4 separate regions of the Homo sapiens genome follow, and all the other regions are linked to region 3. The links come from fine-mapping of genetic effects on gene expression. A gene starts in region 3. Each other region holds a variant in brackets. All regions are shown on one strand. Distances are between the middles of the regions.

What was found.
Region 1: its variant is fine-mapped to the expression of DAAM2 in whole blood (TOPMed, PIP above 0.99).
Region 2: its variant is fine-mapped to the expression of DAAM2 in whole blood (TOPMed, PIP above 0.99).
Region 4: its variant is fine-mapped to the expression of DAAM2 in whole blood (TOPMed, PIP above 0.99).

The regions. Positions count from the first base shown.
Region 1 is chr6:39,825,312-39,832,790 of GRCh38, forward strand. The region is part of intron 1 of DAAM2 (dishevelled associated activator of morphogenesis 2); the gene reads left to right. Among named protein-coding and RNA genes, the nearest start is that of DAAM2, 37 kb to the left of the region's middle. The variant A/G (reference allele first, on the strand shown) is at 2,463.
Region 2 is chr6:39,703,368-39,710,846 of GRCh38, forward strand. All of the region lies in intron 3 of KIF6 (kinesin family member 6), which reads right to left. Among named protein-coding and RNA genes, the nearest start is that of KIF6, 18 kb to the right of the region's middle. The variant G/A (reference allele first, on the strand shown) is at 3,754.
Region 3 is chr6:39,789,374-39,796,852 of GRCh38, forward strand. It overlaps DAAM2 (dishevelled associated activator of morphogenesis 2), which reads left to right and starts at 3,003. Exons shown (of 25, transcript NM_001201427.2): 1 at 3,003-3,092.
Region 4 is chr6:39,815,997-39,823,475 of GRCh38, forward strand. All of the region lies in intron 1 of DAAM2 (dishevelled associated activator of morphogenesis 2), which reads left to right. LOC124901487 (a long non-coding RNA gene) reads right to left here and starts at 3,815. Exons shown (of 2, transcript XR_007059917.1): 1 at 3,701-3,815. The variant C/T (reference allele first, on the strand shown) is at 3,987.

The DNA of each region.
Region 1 (7,479 bases), 36 kb after region 3:
CCGGGAGGTGGAGGTTGCAGCGAACTGAGATTGCGCCACTGCACTCCAGCTGGGTGACAGAGCAAGACTGTTTAAAACAAAACAAAACAAAACAAAACAAAACAAAACAAAACAAAACACAAGGTCGGGGGGTTGGTGGGGGGCCTTTGTTTCTTGAAGGAAACATAGTTAAGCATACTCCTGTAAAGTAGCCCAGCTCTGCCAGTGTGTGTGTGTTGGGGGGCACTTTCCTGAGCCTGGCTGTGCATTCACTCACAGAATCACCCTGTCACCTGATCACACACCCTCTCCATCGTACCAGGGATAAGATATGTCCTTCCCCTGCTCCCACCGTGGCTGTGATTGGGCAGGTGGGAATGGGGGGAGTCAAGGGAGCATAGGTGGGACTGGCTTTCTGCACCCCGATATCTGTACTGAGTGTACTGAGTGTACTCTTTCCCAGGTGTACAAGCCCTGCAGGCAGGGTGGGCTCATGTATCTCCTTGGATGTGGGATTCTCTTGCAGTTCACAGCCTGCACACTACATGCAGTGGTCCTTGTACCTCTTGGGTAGAATGGAATTGGAGGGAGACCCAGTCCTGCTCTATCATTGCTAAATGGCCCAGCACACATTATTTGGGCTTTGTGAATCTCTTAATTTCTAATGGGAAATGGGAATGAGGTTCACATTTTATGTGTCCCCATGGTGCAGGTGTGTTGGCAAATATGAGATAAGGCGTATTTCATGCCTAGTGCAGTGAACCTGGCCTCCTTCCCCATTGGACATGTGTCTTGGTCCAGCTTCTGCCTGCTGGCTTGGGATGTGGCTGCCTTAAAAGATAGTGGGGAGAAATGATAAACACACGGCTGGCATCTTCTCAGCTTAGGAGAAGAGCCCTGGGGAAGAAGCGATTGTGCGGCCTGCTCCTGGTCTCTGGTATAACTAGTTCAAATAACTGCCAGTTAGTAGCAGATTTTTTTTTTATTTTACTTTCGAGGGTCTTCTCCTTACCTGCTGGAACTCTCTGGGCTCCCTGCCATGAGTACTTTGTCATTCACAGCACAATCCCAAAGTGAGGGGCTGGGGCTATTCTAGGAAAGCAAGTCTCTTAAAAGGTGAGCATCCCTGTGGTGTCCTAAAGCTGGGGAGAAGCCACTTAGGGTTTTGGGGGACTCTCGACTCCTTCTCTTTCTCTCTTTTTCATTTCCAGTGGAATCCTCAGGTGATCGGTTGTGTAGCTGATATGCCCAATAGCTCCCCTTTCCTGGAGAACATATCCAATTTGCCTCACGATCCTCCTGAAATTCTTGAATCCCTGGACACCAGGCTAGTTTGTTTGCTTTTCTCCTTTTGCCAGTGATTTTTTTCACTTCATATTAGGACTGTTTGCACACAAAAATTAAGAAAAATGTACATAAAAAATCAGATGTGAAATGTGAAAAAGCATACTAATGGTAGGCAAATAATAATAATTAGTATGCATAGTCACAGGTTTCTGTAACTTCAACTTGGCAAATCCAAATGTCTTGGAATGACTGTCAGGAGCACCTTCTCTTTTTAAAGAGAAGTTTCTAAGTACCCTTCAAGCTTCAAAGAGAAAATCTGAGGTGAGGAAATCAGGAGAAGTTGGGAATCAGTTTCCTGGAGTATTTGAGAATATTTAAAGAGAGAGGCGGTGTAGCTTGGATCCTAGCAGGGCTCACAATATTTAGGGGAAATATTCATGAATGAATCTTGGCTAAGATTTTTGGAATTTTTAATTTTTGTTTTTATATTGCATTTTTGTAGTTGTTGTTTCCACTTAAGTAGAAACTCAGGAGAAACCAGGAAGCAAAGCAGAATTTGTCTGCGACTGTTCTGTAGTGGGAGAGAAGAGTTCTGTGCTGTGAATTCGAAAATTGGGTTCTAGACATGGCTGTGGCATGAGTTTGCTGTGGGTCCTGAGGCAAGTAGCCTGCTTCTTGGGCCTCAGTTTCTCGCCTGTAAAGCGGTCTTTAAATGGTAGTACCTTCATTCTCAACGTCTTGTGCATGCCAGCAGCTGTATGAGGGGCGTCCTGCAGATCATGTCGGAGAAAGGAGGAGTTGAGTCCATTTGCACACAGGTGGGGAGTGTGACATCTCAAGAGGGGAAGGCACAGCTATCCAGGAGCTGAAGTGGGGCGGGGGTAGTCTTTTTCAGAGTCTGATTATTGGGTCTGGGTTTGTGGAATGGTGCTTCACCACCCCAGGGAATGGTGGCCCTCACTCACGCCTTGGCTCTGTGTGTGTGGGCTCATGGAGGTGCCCCCGGGCCTGGTAGGATGCAGGGGCCTGGGCTTCAGAAACAGTGGCTGGAGGATTCTCCCTGACTCTTTTCCTTGGGGTCCTCATGCCTGGATTACTCTTCAGGGTCTCTGTCTTTGTGTGAAGTGTGATACCCCTTGACCCCCTTGGTCTGAGAATGAACTCTCTTAATGGACCAAAGGGGAATCTGGAAAATC[A/G]CAAACCCAGTTTCAGAATTCAAGGGGTATAGTCCCTTCATGTCTGAGCCCTGGAGTACTTCTTGGGTCATCTTGCCAGCTGCCCAAGCTCTGCCTGCCCTGCCGCTCACACTTCTAACTCCTGCCCTCCCTGCTACCTGAAGGCTCATACCTGGGGAACGCCTCGCTGTCCTTGGAGACTCAGCCCAAAAATCACCACACCTACAAAGTCTCTCTAACGCCTCCTCCTCCCCACCAATTTCAGGTAGTAGGGTTCCCTCTCACCTGTGCTCCCACAGGCCTGTCCCTGATGAAGCACTGAGCACAATGTTTGAAAACCACTGTTCTGTCTGACTCTCGCTAGACTATTAGCTTCCAGAATGCAAAGCCCTGACTGGTTCAGTTTTGCATTTCTAGTATGTCTTAGTCCATTTGTGCCAATATTCCACACACTGGGTAATTTATAAACCAAAACAACATTTCTCATGGTTCTGGACTTTGGGAAGTGCAAGATCAAGGTGCCAGCAGAGTTGTTGTCTGGTGAGGGCTGCCCTCTGCTCCTAAGGTGGTGTTTTGTTGCTTCTTAATGAAAAACTGTAAAGAGCATAGGTACTCCTTGCATTTTTGCTATTCATTCATGCAGCCAATATTTAATAAGGACCTACTATGCATTAGCCCTTGCCAGTGGAACTATGCTATAGTTTGCATGTCTGTGTTCCTTTCCTTCCTCTGGAGGGGAAGAACACTGTGTCCTTACATGACAGAAGGAATGGAAGGGCTAAAAGGGCCTAAGCTAATTCCCTCCACCCCCCTCCGTCTTTTTTTTTTTGAGACGGATTCTTGCTCTGTCGCCAGGCTGGAGTGCAATGGTGCGATCTCAGCTCACTGCAGCCTCTGCCTCCCGGGTTCAAGTGATTCTCCTTCCTCAGCCTCCCGGGTAGCTGGGACTACAGGTGCGTGCCACCATGCCCGGCTAATTTTTGTATTTTTGGTAGAGACGGGGTTTCACCATGTTGGCCTGGATGGTGTTGATCTCCTGACCTTGTGATCTGCCCGCCTCTGCCTCCCGCCTTTTTATAATGCACTAATCCATTCATGAAGGTAGAGCCATCATGACTTAATCACTTCCCAAAAGGCCCCACCCTTAGTATTATTGCAACAAAGATTAAGTTTCAACATATGCATTTTGGAGGGAACACAGACATGCAAACCATAGCACAGTTCCACTAGCAGGGGCTAACGCATAGTAGGTCCTTATTAAATATTGGCTGCATGAATGAATAGCAGAGATGCAAGGAGAATTTATGCTCTCTACAGTTTTTCTTTAAGAAAGAAGCAAGAATGGTTACTGTTTGGATAATTCACCCAGGGACCAGCTTCACGGGATGCTGTTTAAACAGATAAATCCAATTGGCATCTCTTCTTTGTATACTTTTGTTGATGGCAGGGGCCTGGGGAGCGGGCTGTGTGTTCCACACAGGGTGTGTGGATGGGCCTGCACATGCGCCTATGACTGGTTGTGGGTAGCAAGCACAGAATGATCCTGTTTTTCTGTAAATACTGAGCCACAAACATTGGCAGTGACTTTCTGGCCATTATCCTCAGTGGTGTGTGATTCTTGCGGCTTTTCCCAGGGTGTACCAAAGGAGTGTGACTGTGGTGACCATCGATGGGGAGGCTGGCAGCACTCAGGGTGATGGACAGAACCCCATGGTTGGTTCCCTCTTAAGAGGCTTGTGTTGGAGGCTGAGTGATACCTCATTTGGCACCAGTTGGAGAGTTTATAGCCTGTGAGGGTTCTTACACTTACCAAGAGGAAATTGGGCAATAGAAATTTATGTTAATGTCTGTGGGATAACAAAAAAGCAACATGTCCCTGGGTCAGTAGTGATCTTACCTTCAGGGGTTTGTTTATTCATTGGCACACTCAGACATTTCTACTCAGTGCCTGCCATATATGCCTGTCCTCATTCTAGGGATGCAGACTGAACCTGGTCCCTGCCCTCAGAGGGCTTAGTTTCTGGTAAAAGTGCTTGAAGATTGGGAGGATGGGAGTTGAAGCTGGCACCCTCCCCAGAGCCGTTCTGAGCCGGCCCCTTGGTGGGAAATATCATTTCTCCATTTATTAGCTCCTCTGTTCTCCCCCAAGTTGTTGCTGGCCAGAAGCACCTTGGTACCACCCTTCTAGATTTCTCATGCTCCCTCCTTCCCCACGCTGAGTTAGAGACCCTTCATCCATACTCTCATCATTCCCTGTACAGCTCCACCAAGATACTTCTGCCCACTACCCCGGCCTGCTCACATTTGTACCCCCTTTCCGACTGGGAGATTTTTACAATCAGGTCTGTGTTTTATTCACTGCCGCATCCTACAGTGCACAGTGTCTGGCCCAGAGTGGGGGTTCATAGATGGTTGTGGAGTGGATGCCCATGGGGCAATGCTGGACTGCATTTATTTCATCTTCAGCATTCACACTGAAGCCTGTGTCTATCTATTTTCATCTTTTTCTGGGTCCGTCATGGAGAGGCATGACTCTCAGAGAAGTTGCTGAAAAGCTGGGGCATTGCGAGAAATTGGAGAAATCTGGGAAGCCACAGGCTGGAGTCGCTGGGGTCCGGTGAGTCCTCTGTGACTGTCATTCCACGCACTCCCTCCCAGGGAGGGAGGCAGGTGGGCTTCAGGGCTGACAGAGTGGGGCTCTGAGTCCAGACTGTGCTTGTGCTGAGGCCTGCGTCTTCTTCATCGTGAGTGGGGACAAGTGATGCTGACAGACAGACCTACCCCTGTGGCCCTCCGGCTCAGGCAGTGCAGCTGGGCCAGCAGGAGAGAGGGCCGCCTGGGAATAGCTGGGAAGCAAGTCCAGGCCTTGGGCCCACCTCCCCCAAGGCCAGGATGTGGCGTGGGACCCAGGCCTGCGGAGGTTCCCACCACTCTGCTCCTGCACTCCCAAATGCTCCAGGCCCAGGCAGCAGGAGGGGGTGGCGAGGGGCTCCAGCTGCCTGGGTCAAGACTGCATCAGGACCAGGGCAGCTCTGCAGGCACACACCTCTGACATTTAGCCTCCACCTGGATAGCTGCCAGTGGCCCTGCAGTCCGGACCAGCTTTGCATGGGGGAGGAGAGTCAGGGATTAACCATTTCAGGCCCTTCCTCCATCAGGCAGAAACTGGTCCTCTCAGGTCGACCATGTACCAAGGACCGGAGTGGGCATATTTACAAATGTTGCCTCATTTAATCTTCACATCAACGTGAGGGTGTGGGCATCATCTCCATTTCTCAGATGAGTAAACTAAGGCATGTGGGGAGTTATGTAACTTGCCTAAGTCTACACAGTTAGTAAGTTTCATATATTCCTTCTTTATTACAAGGGCCTATTATGTACCAGGTAGTAATTCTAGTCACTGCGGATACAGCAATGAATGATAGACAAAAATGCCCCATGGAATATACATTCTTGTGGGAGGGATAATGAATACATGGGATGTATAGTCTGTCAGGTGGTGGTAAGTCTACGTGGAAAATGAAGGGAAGGGAGATGGGAGGTGCTGGGAGCGGGGCTGCTATTTCAGATGCCCTTGAAAGACCTCACTGAGAGGGTGTGAGTTATTCACACTTAGTGCTGAATAGGTGCCTGGTGCTACCCTAATCACTGTACCTGACTCACTAAATTAATCCCCACAATTAATCCCCACAATCTTTGAGGCAGATTACTATTATTATTCTCATTTTCACATGGGGAAACTGAGGCACAGGGAGGTTAAGTAACTTGCCAAAGATGACACAGCAGATAAGAAGCAGCTCTAGGATTTGCACCCAGGAAGTCTAACTCCTGAGTTCTGGCTCTTAACCTCTGTGTGGCCTCTGCCAGGGCCACAAAGACAGTAAATGGGTGGGAAGGTCAAGAGGCTTGTAAGACCCCACCTGAACAGTCCAGGTCTGTGGCCTGGGGGGTAGGCACGCTGAGGGACAGGTGCACTAGGGGGCAGGTGCACTGTGGGGACAGGAGCACTGGGGAGGCAGGTGTACTGAGGGGGCAGGTGCACTGGGGGGGGGCAGGTGCAGTGCAGGGACCAGAGCACTGGGGGGTAGGTGCACTGGGGAGGCAGGTGTACCGAGGGGGCAGTTGTACTGAGGGGGCAGGTGCACTGGGGGGCAGGTGCACTGAAGGGGCAGATGCAGTGCGAGGGCCGGGGCACTGGAGGGTAGGTGCACTGGGGGGGTAGGTGCACTGGGGGGTAGGTGCACTGGGGAGGCAGGTATACTGGAGGGACAGGTGCACTGGGGGCGCAGGTACACTGCGGGGACAGGTGTACTGAGGGAGTAGGTGCACTGGGGGAACAGGTGTACTGGGGGGACAGGTACGCTAGGGAGGCAGGTGCACTGGTGCTCACTCCTCTGCAGCTCCCTTGGTGAGGAAAGGGTAGAGGGGCCGACAGGTCAGTTGCAGTTAAACCTGGGTGAAAGTGGGGCTTGACTAGTTTGTGTCAAATAAGGAGAGGATGAGCTCCCCAGTGAGGGGGTCCCAGAGGCTCCCCTTCTCCCCTCTCCTCCTATGCCAGCCAGCCTCCCTGAGCCCTCCGAGGACTCAGATCTGAAACAAAAGTGGGACTGTTTTTTGCTCTTGTCCTCTTCTTCCCTTCCTTTTGTCTATCTGGGAATAACCCACTTAGTGGTGGTGATGATGATTGATGACATAATAGCAGCTCATATTTATTGAAGACTTACTAAACTGGGCAGCGAACATGAATAACGACACTCAGCTGTGCAGGAAAAAGTAATTGATTCTTATAATGGATAATTTTCAATGAAAAACTTAGTGTGAAAAATAAAGGTACTTTAGTCTCTGATTTAAATGAGTTGCTTTGGAGCGAGGTCCCATCAAGTCAAAATTCAAACTTCCTGTGAGGGCAGCTCCCAGTGCCCCTCCCCTGAATGGTCTGGCTTCCTGGGGAAGCTCCAGTATTTTCCTGGTGACCAGGGAAGGGCCTGGGGGCTGCAGGGTTTCTGCAGTTCTCCACGGAGCTGTACCTTGCTCTCTC
Region 2 (7,479 bases), 86 kb before region 3:
CTGGGTAACCCCGCAGAAACCAATTAAATGCTCAGGGTCCCGTTTTTCATCTAAAATGGGAATAATAATATCTATCAACCCATAGGGTCATTATAAAAATTAGGTGAGATAATATACGTGAAACTGCTCTTATATTGGCAAAGCTTTATATAAAATAATATATATTCTTAGTGTTATCAATTAATAAGTAAATTTGTTCCTATTATTTAGCAAGAATTACACTAAAAATTCTGACCAGAAACACATGGCCTAGTATAAAAGTAAGGCTCAAATTCACTGACAATGATAGAAACTCTGCTAAAAGTGCTCTGCTCCAAGTAAAGGAACTTTTAAATGAAGATATTTAGATCTGCAAGTGATAAAGCACGAGATAAATTTACTGCTGTATATTCTCCAACCATTCTAACAACATATTTTCAGTATGATTTTGCTTTTGCCAGTCAATTATAAAGTCAAATAACTATAGTAAAAATCTTGCCAGTTGTAATCAATCACTACACATTTGTATAGGAAGGATTTTCCAGAACACCTTGCTTCCTACTTGTGTTCTTTCTATATCTCTCTTTTGGAGGCTATCAAGGTGAGAAATAATAACTAGAAATATCTTTGGTTTATTTGTAAGTGTATCCTCAAGTCCTGAATTGAAGATCTGATATAAAATTGCAAACTTTTTGGTGCCTCGGGAGAAACCAAATCTAAAAAGAGTTAAGGGGGAAAAAAATCATACAGAAAAACATTCATAACTTGGTAAAATTCTGAATTGGGATGAAAATCCTTTTCTATAAAAATGTCAGTGGGGAGCCAAAAATGGATGATAGCTAATACTCATTGAGCATGCACTATGTACTTACTGAGCAATCACATATACTGGGGCATGTGATTTTCACGTACAGCTCATTGGATTGTCATGGCAAATGAGGTAGATATTACAGTATCATTTTCCCCACTTAAAGATAAAAAGCTGGTTCAGGCCAGGCGCGTTGGCTCATGCCTGTAATCCCAGCACTTTGGGAGGCCAAAGCAGGTGGATCACCTGAGGTCAGGAGTTCAAGACTAGCTTGGCCAACATGGTAAAACCCTGTCTCTACTAAAAATACAAAATTAGCAGGGTGGGGTGGCACATGCCTGTAATCCCAGCTACTTGGGAGACTGAGGCAGGAGAACTGCTTGAAGCTGGGTGGCAGAGGTTGCAGTGAGCCAAGATCGTGCCACCGCACTCCAGCCTGGGTGACAGAGAGAAACTCCGTCTTTAAAAAAAAAAAAGCAAAGCTAGAACAGAGAAAGATGAAATAACTTGCCCAAGGACATAGAGCTAATAAGTATTAAAGTTGGGATCTGAACTGCACTTATATGGCTCCAAAGTCCCTGCTCTTAGTCAATGTGTTATATGGTCTCCCCCAATTATATCTTTAGAGAAAATGTTCAGCTTTCTGAAAATAATCTGTTAAGCACCTAACTTAGTCTAAATAGTTTCAGATTTCTCTTAACTTGTAACGTTCCTGTGAATGTTAACTATAGTGCTTTAAATCAAGAGTGGGTCCCTTCTGAGCATGGGGCCCTGTGTTATGACATAGGTCTCATGTATATGAAGCCGGTTCTGGCTTTAGGATAAGGTGCTTTAATTTATTTTAGAAATAAGTGGGAGGTAAATTATAAACAAACAAATACCAATTTCGGAATTGTAAAGTCGTTTAGAGCACATCTTGGATCTCTGAGGAAGATACTAACAACAAATACCACTGGTATCATCTGTCCCTATCTGCATCACCCCACAGCCTAGCTGTAGGCCTAGGTGAGTGAATCTCAAACCTTAGTGTGCATCAGAATCACCTGGAGGGCTTGTTAAACTACAGATAGTTCTGATTCAATAGGTCTGGGTGAGGCCTGAGAATGTGCATTTCTAACAAGTGCCCAGGTAACATTGATGCTGCTGGGTTACGGACCACACTTTGAGAACCACTGGCCTAGACAAAAGAGCAGGTGTCTATATAGCGTGATTTTAGTCATTGAAAAGATCTCTGTCCAAAAAGTACTTCAGGAAGGAAACAGAAATAAAACTCACTTTATAAGAAATAAAGCCCATCACTGTGCATTTAAGCAATAAAGGGAAGGCTGACAGGTGCTAAAGGATCATCCTCTATCTGCCAATTCTCTTCCTCAACAAATACTCAGAGTATCTAATAGACACCTGACACTATTCTAGGAGCCAGGAACACTACAGTGAACAAAGGTAAAGAGGAGACCTTGCCTCCATGAAGTTTAATTCACACACAGGTGAGGCTCAAAGTGCCATGATGTGAACACCCCAGAAGCAGCCTTCAACCAATAATGGGCAGGAGTGGTCAAGTACCCTGGCTTCTTTGCCCCTTGGGTGGGACAACTCTGAGACATGTTCCTAACAGTTCCCCAGTGGGTACCAGTAGAAATAAGTCCCAGTTGCTTACAGTGGTAACCTGCTCCTTAAAGGACCCTACCTTCCTTTCCTTCGCTTTCTCACTTCCCTACTGCACTCCTGGTGCTTCCTGAACTCACCTCCCAAACAAATTACTTTCCCTGGAATCCTAGCCTCAGGATCTGCTTCTGGTGGCACCAGCTTAAGAGATGTCTCTTCATGCTGCAGAATCAGTGCATCTCCGATCCACTGGTTCGTCTCTTTTATTATCTTAGGAAACCCCCAACTAACTTTTTAATCCAAGTAACGCTTTTTATTTTACCGCTGACCCAGTAATTTTCACCCCTTGCATATACAATATTCTGTCAAGGAATCCTACTTCTTACAATCAAATAGCTTCATGCAACTCTTATGCTTTTTTTTCTGTAGGTATTTTATCAAAAATTATGAATAACTTGTAGTTATTATTGCAAAAATGATAGTATGCAATTTCTTGATCAATTATTCTTAAGAAGAGAAACCGAGATTTAGGCTCACTTTTTACCTACAGTAATAAAATCTGTGTTTGAAATGTGCATCTTTAATACATTCTATACTGGTTACATCAACTGCTGTTGTTTTATTCACATTCAACAGCTGTAGGTAGAATGGGAATATTATCCCCTTCCTTGTTAAGTCCTTGATGGAGCTTGTCAAGGTCATCATCTTGTATAATTACATGGCTTTAAGCTGATATGTTAGTGTCCCTGTTTTTAATCATAAGACCATGTTCTCAGTTGAAAATGTAATTTTAAAATTGTCACACTTAAAAGTTTAGATTTAAGTATAATTGTAAAGTCACAAAAGCCAGAAATGTGATGTCATCAGGAAATTCAGCATAGCAGCAAGTAAAGCCAAGTGCAGGTACATGTTTATAAACAACGCATCTGGCAAAGTGCAACTGTGGCCAGAAGTTGAACAGATTTAGGGAACAGGCAATGAGTTTTTGTACAATTCAGTGGTGAATAACGTTTCCTGTAAACTTGGAAAAAAAACAAAATGTCACTGGTGTTTTTGTGAATTTCAGATGGGATTAGCTTTATTGAATCCCCTGGGGGAGAAGTTCCAGTGCAATAACTGAGATTGCCTAATTTACAGAATAGAAGAATATCACAGAACAAATGTCACTAAAATTTTTATAACTGAGGATTTTCTTACTGCTTTATTTTGAAATAATGATAAATTTACAGGAAGTCATAAAGAGAGTATAGAATAGTTCTCTGGACCCCATTTGCCCCAGTGGTTACATATTGCATAACTGTAGTACATTTTCAAAACCAGGAAATTGACATTGGTAGAATGTATGTGTATAGTTCTATGCC[G/A]TTTTCTCACATGTGTAGAATTAAGCAATCACCACTGCCATCAAAATACAGAACTATTCTATCACTATAGAAATCTACTGGTGTTAACATTTTACCAGTTTGAATGAAGTGTAGAAACCTTACTTCCCTTAGGGCCCCCTTCTCTTTAAAACACATAGGGGTGGAGTCACGGGTTTTTCCATGGTATCTGGACGGAGTAAGGCAACTAGTATCTACAAGTTTTCTGTCTTGCTAGGCTGCCAGTCCCCTGGCCCTCTTGCTAGAGACAGTAGACTCTTCTTGAGGATTTTGTCTGAGCCCACTGGTGTTTCTGGGTGTCTGGTTTCTCCAGCATCCAATCTGGGCAGGGTGGTTAAGTGTCCCCGCTCTGTGCAGATATATGAGGGGAAAAATCCAAGGGGATTCACCATTCTGTCACTTCTCAGGTCCTGAGGTCTCTAGCTAGGCTATCTTCTCTTCAACTTTCAGAGTCATGTTTCTTTGTATATGACGTCCAGAGTCTTTAGCTGTACTTAGTAAGGGGAATAGAGAGAAGTGTGTCTACTCTATCTTGGTCTGGAACCAGAGGTCACTAAGCATGTTTTTTGAGTGGCAAAGAAATTAAAGATTTCTAATTTTTTCATCCCTTACATTGAATAGGGCACTGACGCTTGTAAAGCACATTGTTTCTTTTCATCTTTAAAACAACCTTGTAAACTTGGTGTTATTAGCATCCCCTTTCTCAGAAGGGATAACTGATTCAGAAGTGATATGTCTGATTCAGAGTCACATAGGGAGTTAGTCACAGGGCTAGGGCCAGAATTGGATTATTTGACTTGATGCCAAATATTTTGAGCCAGAAAAGGTAAAACCATGAGTACACAGAAGTGAATAACTAAGATTTTTTTAATCCTCTTTTGTGAGCCTTTTTCTCCCTATTCTGTCCTCCTTGTCTTGAAAGAGCAGGATCTCTTCTCTGGTTGGATTAGCAGAACTGGGTGTGCTAGGCAACCCACGGCATTATCAGCAAAGCCTGTTTCCTAAAGAGCAACAGGCAAAAGTCCTGCTGGGCAATGACCTTGGCACAACTGAGAGTGTGGTACTGCCCCCTGCCATGAGAAAATCCCCTGCATCAAGCCTTGGCCTCCCACCCAGCAAGAGCTCATGTGCAAAAGTTGTCAAGCACATCCTTCTCCAAACCTGAGAGGGTAGCGTCCCTTTACAGTAAGAAGAGAGTGAAGGAAAAGAGAAATCTTCTTACTATAAATTGAAAGGCTGCTCCTGATAATGTTCATCACTGGTGAAATCAAAGGTTAACCAGTGGTGGCTCATAATGACTAATAGCTTTCCAAAAGCCAACCTCATTGGCCTTATTGTAGTGTAGGTGCCTTAGCTGTTCAGCACCAGCTACTGGGACTGTGTCATAGCATAGCCAGTCCTCCTGCCAGTGCACATTCTATTCATTTTGGTCAAACCATCATGCTCTTACAAAACATTGAATTTCCAAATTTTTGCAAAATTACTCACTGCACATAAAGTAAATTTCCTACACCCCAAGCTTTTAGGTAAAACATAGATTGGCTCTATTAGAAAACTGGAATTCTGCAAACTTGCAGATGTGTGCTAAGACCTCACAAATGTCTAGACTTCATAGTTTTCCTCCCTAAGTCTTTGAATGAAATGGGCACTCAAGGATAATGTACTATTTTTGCTTGAAGCTTCAGGTATTCTCTGATAGCCTACCACATATTCCAGAGATTGATGCACTTCAGTTTGAGAAGCACAACACTAGATAAAAAAAAAAAAACAAATAAAACAAGACGCTCTTTTGTATACTGCAATACCATAGACATTTGTAGACTTCTTAAATCTTACCTTTATAAAAAAATTCATCCAGAAATTAATGAGCAAAATTCAGATGACAAAAGGCAGTTTTGACAATGTTACTAATCAACCCAAATAGATTTCAAAGACACCTGAGATTAGAAGAGGCATCATGATGAAGCACTTCCTAGTGGAAATGTACTAAATAATAAATAACCACAAAGATTATTTTACTTTATTTCCAATAATACAAAGTTCAAGCTTTACTATTTCTCCCCATACATGCAGTCCTATACAGCTTTGGTCCCTGCCATTTTTGGCACCAGGGACTGGTTTTGTGGAAGACAATTTTTCCACCAAATAATTGTGTGTTGTCGGAGGGATGGTTTTGGGATGAAACTGTTCCGCCCCAGATCATCAGGCATTAGTTAGATTCTCATAAGGAGTGTGTAACCTAGATTGCTCGCATGCACAGTTCACAATAGGGTTTGTGCTCCTATGAGGATCTAATGCCGCAGCTGATCTGACAGGAGGTGGAGCTCAGGCAGTAATGCTCCCTCCACCAGCACTCACCTCCTACTGTGTGGCCCAGTTCCTAACAGGCCACAGACTGGTACCGGTGCATGGCCTGGGGCTTTGGGGACCCCTGCTACATAGTCATGCACATAATATCACTGGTTTGGACGAAGTAGAAAAGATGTCTAAATTGGTGAGATTCCTGAATTACAGAATTTTGGACAGAAATGTGATTAGTTTTATTTAGCCTTAATTGCATACAGTAACCAGAATTAAGTTACCATGTGTTAACCCAGTAGAATAACTTTAAAGGGCTAGTTTAAAGTGGTCAGATTTTATGTTGGGAATGTGTTCTTGAAGGCTAATCTTCACTAGGAATAGCGGACATTTCTGTTTAATATCTGAAGTGGTATAGTGTCTATTCAAAGGCCTGCCAAATTATGTAATTCTTAAAAATTTGATTTTCAATGTATGGGGATACATTACTTTAAATATTGTGCATAAATGACACTTTATTTTATCAGTATTTTATGTTTTACCATTTCAAAGTCATACAATTTGCATAAAATATAAACATCCTGTATACAGCATATTTAAAGTCAATGAAAAAAGTGATTCCCTCCCCAGGCTCTTAAATAAGTCAATTTGCTTAACAACACTCTCCTACAGAGATGAATGAGAAGAAAATGTGAATCTGCCCCCAACTGTCTATTCACTGGTGCAGTACATGTTTCTGCAGAGGAGAAGCTTGGATTAGGGACAGTAAGATACTCCTAGCACCCTGGAGGAAAGAGGGCCTCACGCCTAGCAAATAAACACACCATGCCCTCAGCACATGCCATCCCTTCCCCATAGACACATGGGTAGGCCACAGTGAACAGAAACAGCATGCTCAAACAGACAAACGCATTCTCAAATGACAGGGATAAGCCCACCTCTAAGAATCACCAGTATCTGAGGGAAATCTGCACCAGGAAAGCGAGGCACCAAACTCATCAGAAGAACATGCACATAAAGAAAAAGAAGACAGAAAAAAAAAAAAACCCAGTGTTTCAAAAGATCATTATCTTCAGAGGGAAAGGGAGGATACCACATTCACAAGCAAGAATAGACTTTTTCATTTCCTAGAAATGAAAAATAATAGCAAAAATTAAAAAATTTAGAGGGATAAAGAAGAATTCACCACTGAAAAGCAAATTACCATGCTGGAAGTCTGTGCTGACAAATTCTTGCAGAACTCAGAACCACAGGGCAAAGAGAGGAGAACTATGAATGGGAAGTTGTAATATTTGAAGGATAGGACTGCAAGGTCCAGAAATAAAGAATAGATATGTTAGAGGTAAGAAAATTATTTAGGAGGCCGAGGTGGGAGGATCGCCTGAGCCCAGGAGTTTGAGACCAGTCTGA
Region 3 (7,479 bases):
TGTGAAGCCTGCTTCTTATCATGATAGGCTGGGCCTTGGAAGTATATAGTGAGCTTTGGAAGCCAGGTCAACCATAATGTGCTATTTGAGAATCTTTCATCAAGCAGGTACAATTTTCCAGATGAGTAGTGTGCTACAGAGGGCCTCACTGTATGTTCCGGGAACATTCCTAGAATATGCAGGTGAAGAAGGATGAAACCCCTTTCTTGGGAATCTTGAGAATAGGAGAGACTCCCACATTAGGACCCTGTGAGTGATAGGGCTGGGGGTAGGGAGTGAATCAGATGATCTTCGAGTGGGCCCTACTACTTCATGGACTCTTCAGGGCTTGCCAACCTCAAAAACAGCTCCTCAGCACTGACAGCCACGTATTTTATGAATTTCACTTGCTCCTCATCCCAATAGAACCCAATTAAGAATGCTTGGGGGCCAGGCGCAATGGCTCACACCTGTAATCCCAGCGCTTCGGCCTCTCGAGTTGAGAGAATTGCTTGAGACCAGGAATTTGAGATTAGCTTGGGAAACATAGCAAGACCACATCGCTACAAAAAAAAAAAAAAAAAAAAAAAAAAAAAAGGTTAGCAGGGCCTAGTGGCATGCACCTGTAGTCCCAGCTACTGGGAAGGCTGAGGTGGGAAAATCCCTTGAGCCCAGGAGTTCGAAGCTGTAGTGAGCTATCATCGTGCCACTGCACTCCAGCCTAGGTGACAGAGAGAGACCCTGCCTCCAAAACACTTGGGCAAGGATGGAGAGACTCCCCTCTCCCAGACCTAGAATGCTTGCTCCTCAGCCTCACTTCCCCTGTTTCTGTCCTCATGATGTCCCCAACCTGCCACCTCTGAGTCTCTGGCCCTATCTTTTTTTGTGTTTTTATTTATTTATTTATTTATTTATTTATTTATTTATTTATTTATTTTTTTGAGACGGAGTCTCGCTCTGTCGCCCAGGCTGGAGTGCAGTGGCGCAATCTCGGCTCACTGCAAGCTCCGCCTCCTAGGTTCACGCCATTCTCCTGCCTCAGCCTCCGAAGTAGCTGGGACTACAGGCGCCCACCACCACGCCTGGCTAATTTTTTGTATTTTTTAGTGGAGACGGGGTTTAACCGTGTTAGCCAGGATGGTCTCGATCTCCTGACCTCGTGGTCCGCCCGCCTCGGTCTCCCAAAGTGCTGGGAATACAGGCGTGAGCCACCGCGCCTGGCCAAATCTGATCTTCTCTTAAAGAGAGTTTGTGGAAGGCATCCTCTGTCTTCTGTATTACAATCTCACTGGTCAGAACTTGGTCTCATAGCAATTGTGAGCTACCAGGGAGTCTGGGATGGTGAATATTGTAGATTTCTAACTTCTTTAGTTGAGAAAGGCAAGGGAGAATGGGTTTGTCAATGGCTTCTGGAAACCTATTTGCAGGGTCTGCTGAAGAACAGAGCTCACCTTGCCAGTGGAGCCTTGATATGAGAGAGGGAATGGAAGGAGGTAAAAGTGGGGTATTATGCCAGGGAGAGCAATCCCACAGTGACCAAACAGCAGCTCCCTGCTGCAGGGCCCTCGGTGGCTTGGGTCAAAACAGCGTGGCCTCTACCGAGAGGCCCAGCCCTAAGACAGCTCCTTCTGGCAATCAGCTCTAACCAGCTGCTGCCAAAGAGGTAAACACATTCCAAGTCCTTGAGTCCCTGCTGCACTGTAACTGTGGTTAAAACACAACCCCGCCTCTACCAGTTTGGGCTAATGGAAAGTTCACTATAGTTGTGTTTTAATGATGATTTGCAATTATCCGTGCCCCCTCCCATTCATGGTGAGATGAATACCTAAACACTTATGTTGTCTAACCATATAAGTATTTTGCATCTCACGTGTATCATTTTAAGTTCATTTCATTCTCCAATCCTTGGGAACCATGAAGGATAACACATTACATTCTCTTTTTTTTTTTTTTTTCCTCTGGAAGATCATGCATTACATTCTCTTTTTTTCTCTGGAAGGGTGGCCCTTAAACCAAGCCATTTCCCTAAGCCCCTTTGGTGAGGTGGAGAAACAGACAACCACTAACACAGAACAACCACTGAACACCCAGAAAACTGTATACAGGTCATCACCCAGTGGGGGCACCATTTGCTTGCAGAGGGAGCTGGGGAAAATAGGAAACAGAGAAGATCAAATACTCCCCGTGAGGGTGTTGCCAATCCCAGAGAGGACAATTGCTCTTGACCAAAGCAATCTCTAGTTCAGTCAAGGAGACAGACCACAATCACATTTAAAAAAAAAAGAAAAAAAAAAACTAAAAGGAAATTTTAAAAGTATGAATAAGAGCTATTGTAAACTGCTCAAACTATGCATACAAGCAATGAAGTAAGATGAATTGACTGGCACTGAATTGGAAAAGCTATACAGAGGCAGGGAGTGTGGAACATAATTTAATAAAAATAAACTTAAAAAAATATATATACACTCCCAAAAAAGAAATGGAAAAGTTGTTAGGGCGTGGACCAGGACTCCTAATTAGCTGTTCTGTTGTGCCTGATTTCGCTCCTGTCTTGCCCAGCACCCCTTGGGACACACTGTCCAGTGCAGGGACACTTTGGGGAGGGACAGGGGATTCCTTGGCACCGGGACCTTCACCTCCGAGCCGGCCTCAGACCAGGCCATTTGCCCGTAGCCCAGAGGAGGAGCCGGGGAGAAACCCGCTGCCCAGGTGGCCACTTTTGCCTCTTTGACCCTTCCATGTTTCCAAAACAGAAGGGGCCCTGAGAACGCTCCCTGCCAAAGTGGGGAACAGCTACCCTCATTGTACGCCTCGCCCTGCCGGTGGCGCTCTCCCCCCGCCTGCGTTCGGTCTGAAAGTGTGAAAATTACAAATCCCAAGAAACTGCAATCAGAAGTCTACCTAGGGAAAATTCAGAGTAACCTTGCCATAAATATCCCGCTCCAAGACGCCTGACGTCAGAGCGGGGCGGGCGGACGGGCGCGAGGCCGGGCCTGGAGGGGCGGCAGCCGCGGCTTCCCGGGGATAGCGCGGAGCACGCAGCAGCGAGCGGAGCGCGGGCGGCGGCGCCGTACCTCGGGCTGCGGGAGCGCGGGCGCCCTGGGGTCCTCGGAGTAAGTGCGGCCGGCCCTGGCGCTCCCCGTCTTGGGGCCCGGGCCGCGGGGAGCCCTCTCCGCTGGGCTCCCACACTTCTCTCCCTCTGCTTTCTTTAGCATGCCCCGCGGGGCTTGGGGAGGCAGCAGCTCCGCAGGCTGGCGGTTTTGTTTCTCCAAAGTGTTTGCAGGAGCCGCCGACCCCGGAGTGGGCTCCCAGGGCCTGTGTGTGTGTGAGTTGTGTGTGTGTATGAGTGTGATTGCGTGTGTCTGTACTGGCACATCTGGACATAGGAAATGTCTTTGGAAAACTTTTTAAAAATGTTTTTTGCGGCTTTGAAACCTGACCCCTGGTTGTCACAAGTGGACAAACACAGAAGATACCCCGCAAAACTGACAACTTTTTGGTGGTGGCTTTTCCGGGTTCGGCTTGAACCTTCACTTGGCTGGGCTGAAGTCTTCACAAGCCCCCAGCTCCCACTTGCAGGCCTGGCCTCTGGCCAGTGGGCAGGGCAGCCGTAAGGTTCTTGTTCTCAGTGGCAGTGGGACCCTGGGCGGGGGAAGGAGCATCTCAGGAAAGGGGTCCCCGGACTCTGGGGCTCTCAGCACCTGCGGTCGCAAACCAACCTCATGCCCTGACTTTACCAGGCGTCGGGACTCTGACTTAACCGGGGAATGAGGGACTTGGTCTGGCGGCAGGTAATTTTGTGAAGAGGATGAGAAGGAAGAGGGGGAGGTGGTGGTGATGGCCAGGACGCTGTGGCCCTGTGTCCAGCCGTAGCTTGGGAGTGGGATGGTTGGTTCTGCCACATGGCCACGGTGAGGTACGTGCCAGGTTCTCCAGGAGTGCCGCGTGTGGTGCCCCAAACAAGATGCAAGCTCCTAACATAAAGAGACGTGTCTGAGCTGTGGGGTGGAGGAAGGGGGGCGGTGGGGGAGAGGGAGATTTTTATCAAAATTGAACACAGATTGCTGAGATCTGGGCTTGATTTAACTCTTCTCTCTCTGCCTCGGCCACTTCTCCACAGTTTTGGAGTGGATTTGGAACGTTTCTCGGAGGGTTAGAGGAAAATCACACCTCTCCGGAAAAGAGTCCCCATAGGTTTTCCCTTGATGCCCACGTGGGAATGAAAGCAGCTTCCCATCTTTAAAAAGTTCAAAGTCTTGTGTTTTCCCCCTTCTGAGTTTGGTGTTAGTTTCCTGAGTTTCTTTGCAAAGCCAGCTGAAGCGGGGGATGGATTTTCCCTAGGGCCTAGGGCGGAAAGTGTGCTCCACGGAGAGTAGGGGAAAAAAGCAGCAGTGAGGCTGTATCGATCCATCATCCCTGAGTAGCACAGTGCCAGGCACTGCCTGTCAATAGCTGGGTTCCACAAACGAGTGACCACAGACAGACTGAATTTTCAGCTTTGAGCTAGCCAGGTCTCTGGTTTTGTATTTTGCAGTAGAGCCAACCTACAATGTCTGGGTGGGAGGAAGATTACTGGACTCTCCCTCTGTCCTAGAAAAATGAGAAAATGAAGGGACAGGGAGGAAATCTGGATGTAAAAACAGACCCACAGGAAGTTAAGATTCAGGAAGGATTTTAGAAATTATATAAATTGAACCCCAGGGAAGCTCCATAAAAGATGGAGCAGGCAGCAATGTCAGAAACAGACTCATTTAACTTCAGGAGTACGTTGTCAACTGAAGTGTAATGAAGGAGGAGGAAATCATCCCATAGGCAATGTAAACAAGGGTGCATGTAAACAGGAGTGACTGGTCCCCATGAGATGCACATGCCTATGTGTTTTTACACATACATGACTGTGTGGTGATGGCCATGGCCTTAGACATGGGAGGATAAATGGTCTATTTCTTCATCTGTGCTGGGAACTCCATCTAACCCCCATTTCTTCCTTTATGCAAACAACTGTGCTATTATTGTCTTGCTCCCTGGTAGTTGCAAACTCTGGCTCCTAACTCCCAGCTGAGTTTTCAGAGCTTTTCCTCCAGCGCCTCGGATGCTGAGGGAATACTCGTGCCCCCATCAGGACAAAAAGAGGAGAGAACATTCTCCTGGGCATTAGAACTTAGAGAGTCAGGGGCTCAAGAAGGCGGAGGCTGTGCAGGCAAGACCAATAGGAAGGCCTGTAAATGATTTTGTTTTTGGTGAGCGTGGAGGAAGTTGAAATACTACTGCTTGCTGTGAGAACATGTTCTCTCCCCAGTCTTCTTTCCCGACTGTCTCCAAAGTTTTTGATGCAAAACAGATTAAACTCCCCATTACTAAAGAGCCTTGGATCCAGGTGTAAAGAATGAAGATAAAGGGTAAGTACAGGCAGTAGAGAAAGCATAGAGATAATGAAAGATGAGGCTTTCTTATTTGATTTTACTAGAGCCAATGGAAGTAACAAGTTTAAATGTTCTCATTCATTTCCATTATTTAAACATAGAAGACTACCCAGGGACAGAAGGGACCCCTCGGAACAGGATTCCCAGAAATACTCTTATCCCAGCATACAACTCCTCAGGGACAGGTGAGGGGCAAGAACTGGGTTTTCAACTCTTTCTACATGTGGGGTTTCTGGGAGTGCTGCATGTGGGATCAGTGGAGTCCTGATGCTTCTGGGCTTGTACTAGGAGACATTTCACTATGGCCGGGATGAATTCCCAGGCCATGGATGCCTAGGCTGACATTGAAGCCTTCTCATGGCTCATTCTATCAGTTCAATCTTCTGGCCAGCTCTTTGGTCATCTTTGAGATTAGATTAAGTAGATGGGATGCATTCCAAGACATCCTTGAAGGTCCAGAGGGCAAACACAGCTGGCAGAAAGAACAAGTTGAAGGATATCCTTGGCTTTGATAGCGGATGACCCTCTAGATCTCAACAGCCAGAGACTCTGTCAAGGATCCTGTGTCATTCAGCCCTAGACTTCAGAGGCAGCCCGACAACAATGGAAAGAGTGCAGATTTCTGATCAGCTGCCTGGAGAGAGAGAACTGTGACCTAAATACGAATTAGTAACCTGGGCTACATGACTTATTCCTTCTGAGCTTCAGCTTCCTCATCTGTAAAATAAGGATAGTATTTCCCTCCCCAGGTCATTATGAAAACATTTATGCACAAGAACTAAGAACAGAGCTCAGAATGTTATAAGACCCTTCATAAAGGGAGTGCTGTATTTTTATTTTTCAGTTTTTCAGCCATCACAAGCCAGTATTGCTTGGAAAGAACCTCTCCCCAAATCTAGCTACATATTTTCCATGATTGAAGGCTAGTGGGTGGAGTTTCTAGGGCTCTGATCATCCTTACTTCCTTCCTCTAGAAAAGGTGACCAATGAAGATATTCCATGAGCATCCCTGGTCCATTATCCTGAAGTGTGGGAGAAGAAACCAGGGATCCTGGATGTCTGGCCTAGAAATCACTCTTGTGTTTGTGCTCTTTAGGGAGGGAGAAGGACAGAAGAGCAGGTTGTATAAGTATGGTGGGGAGGGGAAAGGTAGGGAGGTGGGGGTAGGGCAGGAGGGTCAAGGACCAATTGGATCTTGAAGGACAAGCCTGAGTCAGAGAGCGGGTAGGCAGCCACTCCTTGTCAAGGGTGCTCAGGTCAGAGTAATGGGGGAATCTGATGGGTTGTAAAGAATGAAAGCTTTAGTCATTGCAAACATCTCCAGTGGGTATGGGGTGGGAGGCTGCCCCCTGAACCCTGATTGATACATTATCCAAGGGAGTGACTACTCCAAAGGAACAAAGGAACATCTGATGTTAGAGAGCAGCTGCAGGTCCTCTTGGCCCATCTCAAAGCTTGTAAGTTATCCTTCAAGTTGACATTTAAGATTTTGAAGATCACATTTGTTTTTGTTTTGTTCAAGCTCTCTCTTTAACCATGGCCTGGGATGACTTTTAAGCTTTTAAGAGGCTCAACCAGTGGTCAACTTCTCTTGAGATGGCCCAGAGCGGGGGTCAGTGAATTCCTCACTCTTGGCAGCATCTATTTCTCCAACTCTCTCCACATTTTTTGGTTTGTTTTTTGTTTCATTATGAGGTTCTAAAACTGCACAGTCAAGATGCTGTGGGGGGAGGAAGTAAGTGCCTGTTCTTGGAACCTGTGCAGCGTTATGCTAGCACTGGCCAAGACTTATCAGACTATGGTTATTAATAGGTGTTATGGGTTTCTTTCTGGGGTCCCCCTCCAAAAAAAAAAAAAAAAAAAAAACCTGTAAAAAAAAAATGAACTTTAGGCAGTTTGATGTCTCTTTCAATCCTGGCCAAAGAGGAGCTGAATTATTTGTGGTACATCCTATGGTTCCAAGGAAGAGCTTTAGAATCAAGCAGACAGAGATTTGAGTTCTGGCACCACCAGGTCACAAGCTTGCTAACCTCTCTGAGTCTTCTTTATCTGTTAAATGAGAACAATAACTATTCTC
Region 4 (7,479 bases), 27 kb after region 3:
ATTCTCATGCTGGATTCCTCCCTCATAGGGAGAAGAGTAGCAATGAAGATTTATTTTTCCTACTGACATGAACTGTGCTACCTCTCAGGATGCTTTAGTGATAGTTTTGGTTTTTCTCTATAGGTATATGAATCACACGTTGTATTTTTTCTAGTAAATACTTGAGAAAGAATTTGATCCAGGAGTCTGGGGCAGAGCCCAAGGCTGCGCATTTCTAACATGTTCACAGGTAATGCTGATACTGCTTATCTGAGGTCCCACAGTTTGACTGCAATGTATTTATTTTTGCAATGGGGCATATTGCTCTATAAATGTTCTCCTGCTCTTGTTCTAAACCTTCACACCCTCATAACTAGGGATTTGATCACAGCCACAGGTTCTCAATCTTGATACTAGGCCACATAATTCTTGGTTGTGGGGGGGCTATCTTTTGTATATAGGAGGCTTATTAACACCCCGAGCCTCTACTCAGTAGATCTCAGTAACATTTACTAGTTACGAGAACCACAAAACTTCTCCAGACATTGCCAAATGTCTCTGGGGGCAGGGGGTGTGATGGGTAGCCACCCCCAGTTTTGAGAGCTGCTGGTCTCAGCTAAATAGTTCCTGTAATAGTTCAAGTCCATTATATCTTATTCTACCCCACACTTTACCTCTGTATTTAAGTTCAGGGGCCTGGATTTATTCATTGAGAAGAAAGGTATGGAGGAGTCCCAGCAGCCTCTGGATCACCCTTGATTTCCAAGGAGAATCATCAACACTTTGTGACTGCTTTTTCTCAAAGGCTCCACACTTAACCCATCTGCAGTGGAGCCAAGGACATCCAGGTCTGTTTCCAGTACCGTCTCTAGTCCTGTTAACGCTCCCCGTGTGGCGGGAAACCTCACAGGAACTAGGGAATGGCCTTTGGTTTTTGGCTTATAAATACTCATCATCACATTTCTTTTGCTGAGAAGTTTTTCAAAATCGTGTTTAACATTCTTGTTGCCGTAGTGGAAACTTTTGTTCTTTGGAGGGCTTCCCATCCTAGGCCCAGGTCAGATTCCTCAGCAGAGCTCTGAACATTTTCTAGGGAAGTTTCAGCAGTGAGATCGCACCTTTGATGCACTTACACAACTGTGGCTGGATTCTGGGTTAAGACTCCCAGGATCCCAACATACACAACAGGGAAACTATGCAGCTGGAGGAAGGGCCATGTGCCTGGGAGTCTTTCTGGGAGGCCAGGATCAAAATCCTTTTATGATTCTATTACTTTTCTGGGTTTCTCTCCTTGCCCCCTAATGTCTTAAATCTAAGATAAACAATGAGCACTTCAGTCAGTAAAAGATTATGCGTAATAACACACAATCTCCAAATTTCAGTGACTGAAAACAACAAAGGTGTATTTCTTACTCATGTTATCTGTCGGTAGTGGATCAACAGAGGGTCTCTGCTTGTTTTAGTCCCTCAGGAACTGAGGCTGGCAGAACAGGCCCTGTCTTCAATGTTGGCAGTTGCTGTTCTAAAGGAAAAGGGAGTCTGGTCCTCACAATTAAAAGCTCTAGACCACTAATGATGCTTCTGTTCATCAGTGTTCTATAGTGAAACAGAACCAATAGGATCTCTCTCTACATATATCTGGATTTGTTTTAAGGAATGGGCTCCCATGGTTGTGGGACTGACAAGTCAAAAATCTGCAGGGTAGGCCAGCAGGCTGGAGACCCAGGAAAGAGCTGATGTTGCAGCTCAAGACTGAAGGCAGTCTAGGGGTAGAGTTCCCTTCATTGGGGGACCTCGGTCATTTTCTCTGAAGGCCTCCAACTGATCAAATGAGGCCTACCCACATTATGGAGGGTAATCTGCTTTACTCAGAGTCTACTGATTTAAGTGTTCATCTCATGTTAAAAAAAGAAAAAATTCTGGCTGGGCATGGTGGCTCACGCCTGTAATCCCAGCACTTTGGGAGGCCGAGGTGGGTGGATCACCTGAGGTCAGGAGTTTGAGACGAGTCTGGCCAGCATGGTGAATTCCCAGCTCTACTAAAAATACAAAAATTAGTCGGGCATGGTAGCACACGCCTGTAGTCCTAGCTATTTGGGAGGCTGAGGCAGGAGAATCGCTTGAAGCTGGGAGGTGGAGGCTGCAGCGAGCCGAGGTGGCGTCACTGCACTCCAGCCTGGGTGACAGAGTGAAACTGCATCTCAATTAAAAAAAAAAAAAAAAAAAAAAAACTTCACAGTAACCTTTATACTGGTATTTGACCAAATACCTGGTCCCATGGCCAACTTGACACATAAAATTAACCCTTCATATTTTCAGCGAATGGGCCAAAGTTAGCCACATGACTCCACCCAACACAAGGACCCAGGAAGTACCATCCTCTGTGTGTAATCGGGGGTGGGGACCAACAATATTTGACTAAGCACCAACAACTAGAACAACTATAAATTATTTTATCTGAGGATGAAAGAAAGTATTAATCTGTGGTATTTTGACGTTAATGCATTCTACTAACACAATGCAGAAATAGTGTTAGACTTAGCTCTACCTGCTCAATTCATTCGTAGCAGAGGTCATGGAAGAACATGGGTTGTAGCATGGCCTGGCCTCCAGGGTGACTAAATTTGAACACTGTTACTGAACATCGTCCTGTTATTCTTCTGTATTGTTTTCTTTATAACATGTTTTCTGTGTGTGATGTTGCATTTAAAGCCCATTTGTGTGCTGTGTAATTGAAGTATGCCTTGCAATTAATTTGGCCTTTGTGACCTCCTTTTAGTATAAATTCTTTAGGTTCCTTTTTCTTGCTTGGATCGGAATCATCTGAAAGGGCTCAGGAGCCAGCTGTCGCTCTGTGTTTTTTGCTACTGAGTCACTGTTTCTGACAAGCCTCTCCTGAGTGTGGGCCCTCATTTCCTTGTCTAGAGTGGGGTTGAGCAATGTGATTTCTAAGGTTCCTTCTGGCTCTGACATTCTGTGTGCCTTTGTTCCACACCCTTTTTCAGTGATGCCAGTGCCAGGGGGTACAGCCTCAGGGATGTATAACAGGGTTTTCCTCCACAAAACTGGCAGAATTGTTCTGGGTTCTTATTTGAAAATGTGGCATGTGGCCTCTCATCAGTGCTTTGGCCATTTTGCATGCACTAACTCACAGAGAATGCAGGCTACACCCCAGCTGGTGAGCATCACCATCATCTCTATGCCCACTGGCTTTCTGTTTGGCTGGAGGGAAGCTGAGGACAAGAGGATGTTAGGTTGGAGCACAGGGAGGCCTGTGGAAGGCAGGGACGGTGTAGAGTCTGGCCCAGCTGAAAATGGGCTTGGGGAGCCTGGCCAGTCCTTCAGGTCCATCTGGGCAAACCTAGTCTTCAAAGGGCAGAGTCACAAGGACCTCAAATGCTACTTACCTCCTCCAGTACTAACATTTGACACATCTAATGCCTATTCATTGTTGTGAAGTTCAAATGAGGTAACTCATGAGGAAGTGCCCACAAAACTAAACACTTATGACACACTCTCAAACACACTCTCAAACAATAAGAATTACTATCATGAGCTGCCTGACTCCACAAGATTTTAGTGCTAGGTGCTAGGGACAGAAAAGTGAAAAAAAGATGCTCAGTTAATTAGCATACAATGTGATGCTACCTCTAACAATAGACTTTGGATGATGTCTTAGTTCAAGCTGCTCTAACAAAATACCATAGATTGGGTGACTTACACAGCAAACGCTTATTTCTCACAGTTCTGGAGGCCGGAAAGTCAAGATCCAGGCACTGGCAGATTTGACGTCTGGTGGTTCAGCCTTCTCACTGTGTCCTCACATGGCAGATGGGATGAGACAGCTCTCTGGGGTCTCTTTTATAAGGGCATGAATCCCGTTCAGGGGAGCTCCACCCTCATGACCTAATCATATCCCGAAGGCCCCGCCTACACATAGCATCAGATAGGGAATTCTGCCTCAACCTATGAATTTTGAGAGGACACACACATTCAGTCCATAGCAA[C/T]GGGCAAAGCTTGTGAGAGCACAGAGGAAGGAGTTTTTAATGTTCAACACTCTGCTCGTGGGGGTGGAAGCCTCCATAGCAGCACTGACAGTTTAACCTGGTCTGGAAAGATGGCAAAGACTGCACAGGTGGAGGGAATGGGCATCCTAGCCTGAGTGAGTGGCAGCGTGCTGGAGAGGCTTATGGAAACCTCTGGTAATCTGGCCTGGTGGCTGGGTGGGGTGGGTGGGACCATGTGGGGGAAGCTGCGGAGGGAGCTGGTGATCAAATTAGGAAAGGTCTTGGATAATCTATGAGGAGCCTGGACTTCGCTGAATTTTTCAGTTACCAGGTTTTAAAAAACTTTTTATTTCAGTTTTTGGCTGAAAGAAGAAGCTATTATTTTAATTTTATTTAAAACCTGCCTGTGGATCTATAATAGGCAAAACTTAACTCAAATAGATTTAATCATAGCCTTGCTGCACTGTCCTGTTAATTTTGCTACTCTCCTTCCTCTTAGAGCTTCCACGTAGAATACATTTATCTTCTCGCTCTAGTCTCGTCTTGATTGAAATATTGGAGTGAGAGATAGAAGGTGGGATCTTTATTTTTTTTTCTCTGTATACAGAATAATGCCTATTTTAGAATGTGGAAAATACTAAAAACTATAAAGATGAAAAAAGAAATTTACCCTCTGGACAAGGTTGGTAGAAGATGAGTGGTTGAGCTCCAGTAGAATCAGTTTTGTTCAAATCCTAATTTTTTCACATATTACCTGTAAGACCTTGGCAATTTACTATCTCCAGGCCTCAGTTTCCTCATCTGTAAAATGGGAATAATAATCACAATACCTACCTCCTAAAGTTCCTATTGGGACTAAATCATTTTCTTCATGCAAAGCACTTAGGAAAGTGCTGTGTACATAGCAAATAATTAATATTTCTTATGGGTTATTGCAACACCCTCTGGGTGAGTTCAGCCCTAGAGGAAAGTAGGTGAGTTCCCTTGGGGAAGGGTCTTTCTGCCTCCATGTTCTACATCAGGAAAGTGGAGAAGCTTGTCATACCACAGGATGAGGCTAGTGCCGAGTCACAGACTGGTGTGTGTTCAGAGTTTTTCCCTGGAGGATGCTAGCTTATCCTCCCTTGCTCCTTCCTTTCTAGCATTTCCACCCACCTCGGGCTCTTGGGGCAGGCTGTCCCTTTAAGAAAGAGAGCCACACATTCTGCTCCTGACAGTGGCCCTGCCTCCCTTGCTAGATACCTTGCTGGGCTGTGGTTGGGACACTCCTGGGCTGGATTTTAGTACTGAAGCCTCCAGAGGAGGGGGCACTGCTTCAAATCAAGCACACCCCACCCCAGGAATCCATGCCCACAGAAGGACTCCCTGTCTGCAGCCCCCTGCTGTGGCCCTGGGCTCCCAGCACCCAGCTCTGGGACATCAGAAGATAATTCTTGAGGACTGAGCTCAGGATTCCTAAAAAGAAAGTTGGAAAATAGCTGGATAAACTTGGTAAGTGAAAGAAAGCCGCGTTACATCCTCTTCCTTGGATTGTGGATTGCAGATTTTGGGTTGAGTTCTGGTGACTCTTGCCAGTGGTATCTGATGGGCAAATGTGAGAAGGAGGAGACAGAGGTGGGGACTGGGATCCCCAGTGGGTAGCGAGTCTTGAACTTGGGGATAGCCCCCCACCTTATCCTGGTGGTTGTCAACCTTGAGGCAGGGAGCTGGGGGTTGACATCTGAACATAGCTGGAGCCTGGCCCAAGGAGTGAAGATCCGGGAGGGGCAGATGTCAGATTTCTCCCTCATTTGGGAAAAACAAAGTGTGGTCAGTGAGTGCTGTTTGTGAAGATGCCAGAGACCAGTGACATTTGCAGCCTGAGGGTGAAATGAGTGACCCTGTGAGTGTATCTCAGGAGGAGACTTGGACCAATTCCTCTTCTTCCTATAGGGTCAGGGGACAGACCAGGCCTGGGCCCCAAGAAATCTGCGTTGTCTCCTTGGATTGAGGCAGCTGCCCATGAGCAGCAGCGGACAGTGTCGTAGTGGGAGGAGGCAGGTCTGCCAAGGGCAGGGAAGAATGGAGGGCCTGTTACTGCTGAAGCCTGGGAACGCTGCCTGGGGGGAGGCCCACGCTCCCCAGAGCTGGAGTGAGAAGGAATGGGAGGAGAAGTCTATGCAGCAGGGGGATGGGCTCAGCCAGCATCCCCACCCTCTGCAGAGCAAATGCCCCCGTCCCATTTCCTGTGGCATGGACACAGGTGAGCTTCCTGGCCTTGAATGCTCAGGTACAGTTTGGAGGGCTGGGGTCTGTTACAAAGAGGTGGCCTCCCATGGAGGAAGCAGGAAATGCTAGAAGCCTCAGCCCCTGGCACTCACCCGAGGGTTTCCAAATCAGAGACACTTTCTGCTAAATTATGCTTCAACAGATGTTTTCTGTGTTCCTACTTGTGCCAGGCTTTGTGCTGGGGATTTACCAAAATATAATATGGCATGGTGGAATTGGGAAGGTGTGCAGAGCTGGAAAGATATTTTGGATGTGAGATTAAAGCCATTTTTGAAAAGTAACAATAATAGTTACCATTTATTCTGTACCTTGAATGCACCAATCACTCTGCTAAAGGCTTTGCATCTCCTTTAATTCTTGCAGTAGTTTATTGACTTGTGACTAATTTTGTAGATTTCAAAGATTAAGAAACTAAGGCTCAGAGATTAAGGACCTTTCCTTAAAGATGCAGGGCTGGTAAATGGCAAAGCCAGGATGAACCTCTTAAGTCGTCTAACCATTTATTCATTTGTGTGTTCAACAAAGTTGAATTGCTGGCCTACTGTGTGACAGCCATTGTAGAGGGCACTCAGGACACAGCTGGGACAGGGAAGGGTCCAGGGCAGCCTAACTCCATAGCCTGGGTCCTCACCCCCAGCCAGAGCCCTTCACACTGGGCCCCAGAGACCCCTGGGAACATTGTGTGATTGTTTTCTCCAAGGTCTGAGACTCTGCTTGAGAATGTGCTTTTCCTTGAGAAATGTTTCTTTGTTTTCATTTTAATAATAATACTGTAAAAATTGGAGGCATTTATTCTGAATCATCTGAATGACCACCATATAACCTACTATTGGCATGCGATTTTAGTCCCCAGGTTTGTGTTTCTGTGCAAGTTGGCACCGAGTGGTTTCCTAAAATGATAGTTTTTAACTTTCAATGCTTTGTTTCTCAAACTGGGCTCTACACTGTGTGCTTCAAAGGCCCAAAGATTAAGAAAGGCTACATCGACAGATTCTACTGCAGGAAGGGAGATGTGCAGTATGGGTGTCCCAAGAGGAAATGGTTCAACATCCTCCTCTCCTGGGGGGTGAAGAAAACTGAGGAGTTCAGGTTGGGGCAAAGCAGCTTGGGGGTTCTGAATCTTCCAACCTGCTGGTCTCCAAGCTCAGGATGGACCTAGGCCAGAGACTCAGAGAGGAACAGGCAAGTCAGGAAAAACGAAGACTCTTGAGTTCAGATTGGTGTG